2 separate regions of the Homo sapiens genome follow, and region 1 is reported to be linked to region 2. The links are microRNA targets in miRTarBase. Many come from high-throughput screens and were not tested one by one. Region 2 holds a microRNA gene; the other region holds the end of a gene's coding sequence.

Region 1 (4,056 bases), not on the chromosome of region 2:
ACAGAGCGAGACTCTGTCCCCCACCCACCTCCCCGCCAAAAAAAGTATTTTAAAATTTCCCTCCCCCTTCCAGGGGAGGCTAATTACTCTTCAGAGCCAAGATCAGGATACCTCATCTAATATTTGTTTCTTGGAATTTGTGAAGATCTCTGTTAATATTTTTTGTTTGTTTTTTTGAGATGAAGTCTTGCTCTGTCACCTGGGCTGGGGTGTAGAGGCGCGATCTCAGCTCACCGCAACCTCCTTCCTCCTGGGTTCAAGCGATTCTCCTGCCTCAGCCCACTGAGTAGCTGGGATTACAAGCGTGTGCCACCATACCCAGCTAATGTTTTTTATTTTTAGTAGAGACGGGGGGTTTCACCATGTTGGCCAAGCTGGTCTTGAACTCCTGACTTCAGGTAATCCTCCTGCCTCGGCCTCCCAAAGTGCTAAGATTACAGGCGTGAGCCACTGCACCCAGCCGATCTCTGTTAATTTTCACAAATGTTCCATGTGCGTTTGAGAATGTTAGAGTAGGAGGGGATAATAGGGTTTGTTAAATATTTTTGGCCAAGCTTATTAATGATGTTAGTCACATCTGTATTTTTTTGACTACCTGATCTGTTGCTTCTTTTTTTTTTTTTTTTTTTTTTTTTTTGAGACGGAGTCTTGCTCTGTCACCCAGGCTGGAGTACAGTGGTATGGTCTTGGCTCACTGCAACCTCTGCCTCCCAGGTTCAAGGGATTCTCCTGCCTCAGCCTCCCAAGTAGCTGAGAATACAGGCTCCTGCCACCATGCCCGGCTAGTTTTTTGTACTTTTAGTAGAGACGGTGTTTCACCATGTTGGCCAGGATGGTCTCCATCTCCTGACCTCGTGATCTGCCCGCCTCAGCCTCCCAAAGTGCTGGGATTATAGGCGTGAGCCACTGCGCCCGGCCTTGATCTGTTGGTTTCTAAGAGACATAGTCCTATTCTTCCCTGAGCTGGGTCCCTGGTGTCACTAAGATCACCCCTTCTCATTCCTGGAACTTCCCTGAGGTCATAGGGGGCTCTTTCATCCTATCTCTGGCTCCTGTGGGTGGCTTCTATGCCCAAGCAAGAAGTGACTCAGGCAAGGGTATAGATACAAAATGGCTCACTCTCCATCCCCAGGGATGTGATTCTGGCTCAGTGCATGGATCTGCTCATTGAGTGGCCTAGGGGTGGAGCAGAGTGTCCCCAACCTGTTGCTTCCCTCCACGGACTCAGTTCTTCCCCAGGGCACTTCGAGAAGGCAGCACCGTGTGATGCTCAGGGCTGCGGGTGAGATGGGCTGGGGTACGAATCCCAGCTCCACCTCAAACTCATTGTGTGCCCCTCCCTGAGCCTCAGTTTCCTAATATGTAAATGGGGATTTTTTTTTTTTTTTTTTTTTTTTTGGAGATGGGAGTCTCATTCTGTCGCCCAGGCTGGAGTGCAATGGCATGATCTCAGCTCACTGCAACCTCCGCCTCCTGGGTTCAAGTGATTCTCCTGCTCCAGCCTCCTGAGTAGCTGAGATTACAGGCAGGTGCCACCATGCTTGGCTAATTTTTGTGTTTTTAGCAGAGACAGGGTTTTGCCATGTCGGCTAGGCTGGTCTCGAACTCCCGATCTCAGGTGATCCATCTGCCTCGGCCTCCCAACGTGTTGGGATTACAGGCGTGAGCCACCGCGCCTGGCCAAGGGGCTGGTAACTTCTATCTCAGAGTGTCTGGCCCATGGTGAATTCTCAGTCATGGTCACTTATTAGAATGAGAACACGAGGCAGCCCCTACAGGACCAGGGCTTGGGTTCAAATCTTGGCCTGGCCACTTCATCGGTGTTTTGAGTTTTTTTTTTTTTTTTTTTTTTGAGACAGTCTTACTCTGTCACCCAGGTTGGAGTGCAATGGCATGATCTCAGCTCACTGCAACCTCTAACTCCTGGGTTCAAGCGATTCTCCTGCCTCAGCCTCCTGAGTAACTGGGATTACAGGCGCCCGCCACTGCGCCTGGCTAATTTTTGTATTTTTAGTAGAGTTGAGTTTCACCATGTTGGCCAGGCTGGGTTTCACCATGTTGGCCAGGCTGGTCTCAAACTCCTGACCTTGTGATCCACCCGCCTCAGCGGTGTGTGGTCTTGGACAAGCACCACCACCTCTCTGGGCCAACTCCTCCTCTGACTGTTCACACAAGGAAACGAGATCAGCTCTCCAGGACCCCACCGACCTCCACCCCAGGGATGAAACTGGACAGGCAGGGGCGCAACAAAGACTCCACAATGGGCCGGGGTCAGACGATCTTCCTTTAATACAAAGTCGATATATCTACATACACGGGGGTGGGAAAACCACCCGGCTGCTTCCGCTGGAATAAACAGTGTTGAAAGTAACCGCAGACCTGCCCTTGTACAAAGAGGAACAACTCGCTTGCTCAGGGTAGGCGGGTAGAGGGGGGCCTGTCCTTCTGGTTTTGCTCCCAAACTGCCCCACAGTCCCAGGGGGAAAGGGTCCCTGATGTGGGGCAGCACAGCCATACAGCCACTGTCCCCGAAGAAGTAGGATCCTCTCTGTCTCCTTGGGGGCGGGAGACGGGGAGACAGCTCAGGCTCTCAGAGGAGGACCACTGTCATCTCTCTCCTCTTACAGCAGCGTCCCCCTCAACCGCACCCAACGCCACTGGGTCCGAGCTCCCCCATGACCTTACCCTCAGAACTGTATTTGATATGTCTGAAAATTTAATTTATAAAAATGAAACAAAAAGGGGGAAAAAAAAAGCCAAGAAAGAAAAAAGGACATCCCATTCTTCTGTGAGCAAAGCACACTTTCTGATGGTAGGAAAAATTAAAAAAAAAAAAAAAAAAAAAAAAGCCAAGGTACAGCCATGGGCCTGGCGTGCGCGTTTGCGAACGTAACTATCACACAAGGACGCTTTCTACAGTGAAAAAATAGACTGTCTTTGAACAGAATATGAATAAGCCAAAGTTAGTTCTCTTTGAAAGTCATTGACTGGCGAGTCTTTTGTTTGTTTCTCTTAAAAAAAAAAATGGAAAAAAAAATACACTATTTAAAAAAAATGAAATGTCACGGGATACAGTTACACTGAGAGTTTTAAAAGAAAGCTGGATTCTGGTCCCAGCCCAGTGTCCCCAGGCTGCAGAGCGGGGAGGAGCCCCCCGGGTCCCCCTACCACCGCTGGGGGAGGACGAGGGGTCCGTCTATGGTCTGTGCCCCACCCTCCTCTGGTTCTGGGGAGCACTCCTATTTGCTCACCATCCCCCCACCCCCCACCCCGGAATCTGGTTTTGGAATTGGAAGGAAAGGAGGAATGTGCCAAGTATTTGAAGGCGGCGGCCGGTGCCAGGGAGGTCGCTGGGGCGGCCGGGGCCGGTGGGGGGGCTCGAGGGGCTGCGTCGTCCTCGGAAATGGTGCAGAAACACAGCTGCTGCCGCTGCCACCTCCTGCCCTGCCCACTGGGGGTCCAGGCCTCAGGAGGTCCGCCCGGGAGGGGCAGAGGCATCCGGGGCCAGTGGTGTCGGGCCTGGGGGGAACCATGGCTTTAGGTTGCATAGTGGTCAAAGCTTCCGAGGTACTCCAGTGCCGCCTGGTAACAGAACTGGTACTCATCCTGGGGGAGCAGAGGTGACCTGTTAGTACCTCCGCTGCTCTAACGCCTCCCAGGGCTCCCTATCGCCCTCAGGAGCAGGCCAAGCTCCTCAGCCTTGTGCGTGTCTCTTGCAGAAGGTCTCTTTGGCCCCCACGGCCCTCCCACAATGAAGTGAGCTATGCCACACCTCTCTGCCTAACACAGCCAGGCTCTTCACCCGGAACGCCCTCTCCTCCCGTCTGCCTGGAGGCCCTATTCATCTTTTCTTTTTTATTTATTTTGAGACGGAGTCTCGCTGTGTTGCCCAGGCTGGAGTGCAGTGGCGCCATCTTGGCTCCCTGCAACCTCTGTCTCCTGGGTTCAAGTGATTCTCCTGCCTGAGCCTCCCAAGTAGCTGGGATGACAGGCGTGTACCACCATGCCCAGCTGATTTTTGTATTTTTAGTAGAGACAGGGTTTCGCCATGTTGGC
Region 2 (4,054 bases):
GGGTCAGGGCAGCCCTGACCTCAGAACCCAACCTTCCCCAGACTCAGAGAACACCCAGAAGGTGCCTCCTGGAGCGGGCAGCCAGCAAGCATCGGGCCAGACGATGGATGCCACAAGCAGAGTCCAGATTCTGTGCCCACCACCCATTCTGTGAACTTTGGAGTGGGACCGACAGCAGAATCCTTTCCCTGACGTTGGCATGAGCTCAGAGAGCCCTCTGCGCCTTGCTACAAGTGGAGCAAGAGGCCAGCCATGCGAGGCCTGCTGTAAAGAAAGAAAAGATGTCACAGACGACTTCCCTTCAGGAGCCATGGGCACTGACCTGCATCAGAGCCTCCTTCCTGGGGCAGGCATCACCTCCCAAGGTGGTCCCGGAACGCACCGGAGTCAGCAGGAGTGGAACAGATGACATGCACCGTGGGTACAATCGGGCCTGTCCCATGGGCGGCCCTCAGGCACCTGCCCTGGAGAGGGCTCCGGCTGCAGGCCGCCTCCTGAGGGTGCTGTTGCTTCTGGAAATTCTCCAGGTAGGGTTTGATCTGAAAAGAAAGCCATGTGCAATGCTGGTCACCAACAAAGCAGGCCAGCAAACAACGAGCTCTTTCCACAGCCCCAGCAAGGTTTTTGACCTTGGAAACATCAACTCCAGAATGACTTTCAGCCTCTATGACCAAATGACATTCGGCACCAACGAAGGGCACGTCCTTGGGGCCAGCATGGAACCATGTAAGGTATCAACAGCAGAGTCTGAGGAAGGACTGAACCCCAGAATGTTCCTGGATGCCTGTGTGTTCATCAATAGCCTTGGAAGTGTGAAAGGAAAGTTATCTCGGGCCCCTAAAATCACTAAGGAAAACTCAAGCTGGAAGCTGCTCAGGATAAACCTGCCTCTCATTCCATTCAAAGTCATCCCTCTGCTCACTGAGACAGATGCGTATCTGATTTGCCTCCTTTGGAAAGGCTCATGAGAAACGCGAAAGAATGTAATCATTTGTGTATCACCTGTCTGTGACCTGGAAGCTCCCTCCTTCCTGCCTTCGCTTCAAGTTGTCCCACCTTTGCAGACAAAACCAATGTACTTCTTACATGTGCTGAATGATGTCTCATGTCTCCCTAAAATGTATAAAGCCAAGCTGTGCCTTGACCACAGTACTTCCTGAAGCTGTGTTACGGGTGTATCCTCAACCTTGTCAAAATAAACTTTCTAAATTAACTAAGAGCTGTCTCAGATTTTCTGAGTTCACAGAAGCAACTGTCCTGAAAGACCAGACCCCACTGACCGTAGAACTTCTGCTTCCCTCCGGAGTCAGCGTCTCACCCAGAACCCTCCGTGGGGATGGAGGGAGACCAGGTGATGCCTGTCACTTACGTATGAATGCTCTGGGGACAACATGCACCCAGATCCCCGGGAGGACGCCTTACCAGTGTGTCACGCCTGAAGTCAGCACACCTTTCCGGGAAGCTCTCGGGAAGGTTTGGGGCAGCAAGAAAAGATCAACTGCATAAAGGGGGAGACTGTATCCCATTTTTTGACCCTAGGTTCCTACTGACCCCACCAACTCCACTGTAAACACGCACAAATGTAACCACCTTCACAAGAATTGTACCAACACTGATATTCATAGAAACGTGTTTTTCAGAGCCAATGCCATTATACTAATCCAATTCCCTGTTTAGCTTTCCTGACCGCGCTGTTGAGCTGTTTTCATTTCTCTTATTTCCCTTGTTATTTTCCCCAAATCATTTTCATTAGGATCAATTTTTTCCATTTAAAAATCTGCATGAAGATTTGATTCCTCAATGTGTTCTTGTCTACATCAAATATCACTGTTTATCACCGCCGCCACCGTGAATTTCCTTCCATGGCTGCCACGTCGGCAGCTTGCTATTTCCCCAGGTCAAATGTCACAGCTGAAATGTTGTCAAGAAAATTGGATTCCTCTGCCAATTTGTAGTCAACTGAACACATTTAGCACTGTGCCGTTTCAGCTGTTTTTAGTTTTATTTTGTGTTGATTATTTTTATCAGTATTATTTAATACAAATGGGATGAGATACTGATAGCCTCTATTTGTTTCATAACCCAGGAGAAAATTGGGAACAATGTTTGGTTGGGGGATAGAAAGAGAAAGATAGAGACAAGGAAAGGTGCAGAAAGAAGCACAGTGCTTGTGAGCTAGACGGGGGTCTGGGGCTGCAGACTCGTCACAGACCCTGCCAAGTGTGAGCTCTTTGTGTATCCGCGAGGTCAAATACCTTCCGAAAAAAAAATGGTGGAGTCAAAATGTCTTTGGGATCAACACAGCCAAAATGGTGATGTAAAGAGACAGGGTCCAGGGTAAGAGCTAAAGCCGACGCGACACCAACGCCATCCTCCCCGGGCCGCGAGCCCCGCCCCCATCATGAATGAAGCTTGTGTTCTCTGAGCGACATCTGTTCTCATCCACCGCAGAGGACCGCAGAGGGCAGACCACCCACGTCTACCCCGTCCATTCTTGCTCACGGGAGGGGTGTAGATGCCCCTGAGCTTGCCACTGGGTCCCGGAAGCCATCCCAAGCAGGATTTGATACTCAAACAAAAGTTGCCTTTGTGTGATTCAACATAAATAAAGCGAATTCACCAAGGGCAACCTCTGCTCAAGGGTCAAACATCAGCACGGGCAAGAACACACCGAGATGCCTCTTCACCAAAGGCGGCATTGCCTGCGGGACCTCCCTGCTGACTCCAGCTGCAGGCTCGCTGGCTTGCTGGCTCGCTCTCTCCCCTCTTGCTCTCTCTCTCTCTCTACCTCCGAGAAGCCCCCCAGGCAGTGGTCAGAACATGGTTGGTCATGGACCAGCTTCTGTAGCCCTGGAGCAGGCAGTGGGGGCGAGGCTATGCACACACACATCACAGGTCAGCCCGAGCTAGAGTCAGCCCCTGGTCACCTACCCTAGAGGGGCTGGAACACCAAGGTCCACCTCCAGAGCCGGTATCTCCTCTGGAAGTCTCTGAAGCAGGATTTCACACAGAGAAGGGGGCTGCCAATGAACCATGTGACCGTGTTCAGTCCAGCCTACAGGGGTTTGAGGGAGGACCCGACCTGAAGGCTGGCGACTCCTCGTCCAGCGCAGCATCCTCAGAGGGTGGGTGGGGCTGCGTCACAGGGACAGCACAGGCTCAGGTGACTGTACTCCATGCACTCCATTCCAGGAGGCCTCAAAGAGAGTTCAACCAAGAAAACAGGTCACGCTGCCTATTCATTCATTCAGCATCACACCTACTGTGCACATCTGGCGACACAGCACCAGGCAAAACAGACAAGGACTCTGCCCTCAGGGAGCTTCCATTCTAGTGGCGAGAGGACAATGAGTGCAGATGACATAACATTCATATAATGACCATCCTCAGAAACAATGCTTATCCTACAGCCACGTGCCAGACGCTGTCTAGACACTTCACAAAGAGCACGTTTCCACTCCGCTGTTAACCCTGCTTTACAGAGGAAGAGACTGAGGCCCAGAGAGCTGATAGGTGAAGGGATTTTCCAAGGGCACACAGCTGGCAACATAAGGTAGTAATAAATGCTATTAACAATTCTCGTCTTGCAGTAGGAATAACCGAGTCGTGCCATGGAAATGTGTCTTTAAACAACATTAATTCTCACTGCTGAGGAAACCCCCTTCACCCCTTGCTTCCCAGAGGTCACCCAGAAGATAAGGTATTTGAGGGCGTAATGTGGATGTCTTCCATTCAGCCAGGAGTTCCTTTCCCTAAAGTGTGCCACACAGCCAAGATGATTTCACACCTAAAAAGGTTGACTAAATGTGGTTTATTCACTGACGAGTCTTCAAGGATGCGACTAGAAGACCACCATGTCAACTAAAACGTCAGCATCATTTCGGGGAATTCCTCCTAATGATGGCCGGGATATGAGCCAAGTGATGTAAGTCACACAGAGAGCACCTGTCATGCGGAGGTGATCCACTTCCTTACCCTGCGCAGGTGCCGGCTGGGCTTTCCCCTCGTGACGTTTCCCAAGAAGAATTGAGTACCGAAAGGAGATTGGCCATGT

What was found. The annotated mature microRNA hsa-miR-377-3p reads AUCACACAAAGGCAACUUUUGU and lies in region 2 at 2,575-2,596, opposite strand. An mRNA with a match to its seed (bases 2 to 7 or 8) in the 3' UTR can be bound and repressed. Matches are read on the target gene's strand: a 7mer-m8 pairs with bases 2 to 8, a 7mer-A1 pairs with bases 2 to 7 and ends in A, and an 8mer does both.
Region 1: miRTarBase lists PTPRS as a target of hsa-miR-377-3p. Seed matches in the 3' UTR shown: 7mer-m8 at 2,897-2,903.

Annotation. Positions count from the first base shown.
Region 1 is chr19:5,203,237-5,207,292 of GRCh38, forward strand. PTPRS (protein tyrosine phosphatase receptor type S) reads right to left here. Exons shown (of 38, transcript NM_002850.4): 38 at 2,272-3,606. The coding sequence ends at 3,538. Among named protein-coding and RNA genes, the nearest start is that of PTPRS-AS1, 28 kb to the left of the region's middle.
Region 2 is chr14:101,060,636-101,064,689 of GRCh38, reverse strand. MIR377 (microRNA 377) reads right to left here and starts at 2,640; the gene lies at 2,572-2,640. MIR496 (microRNA 496) reads right to left here; the gene lies at 4,016-4,054. It overlaps MIR541 (microRNA 541), which reads right to left and starts at 195; the gene lies at 112-195.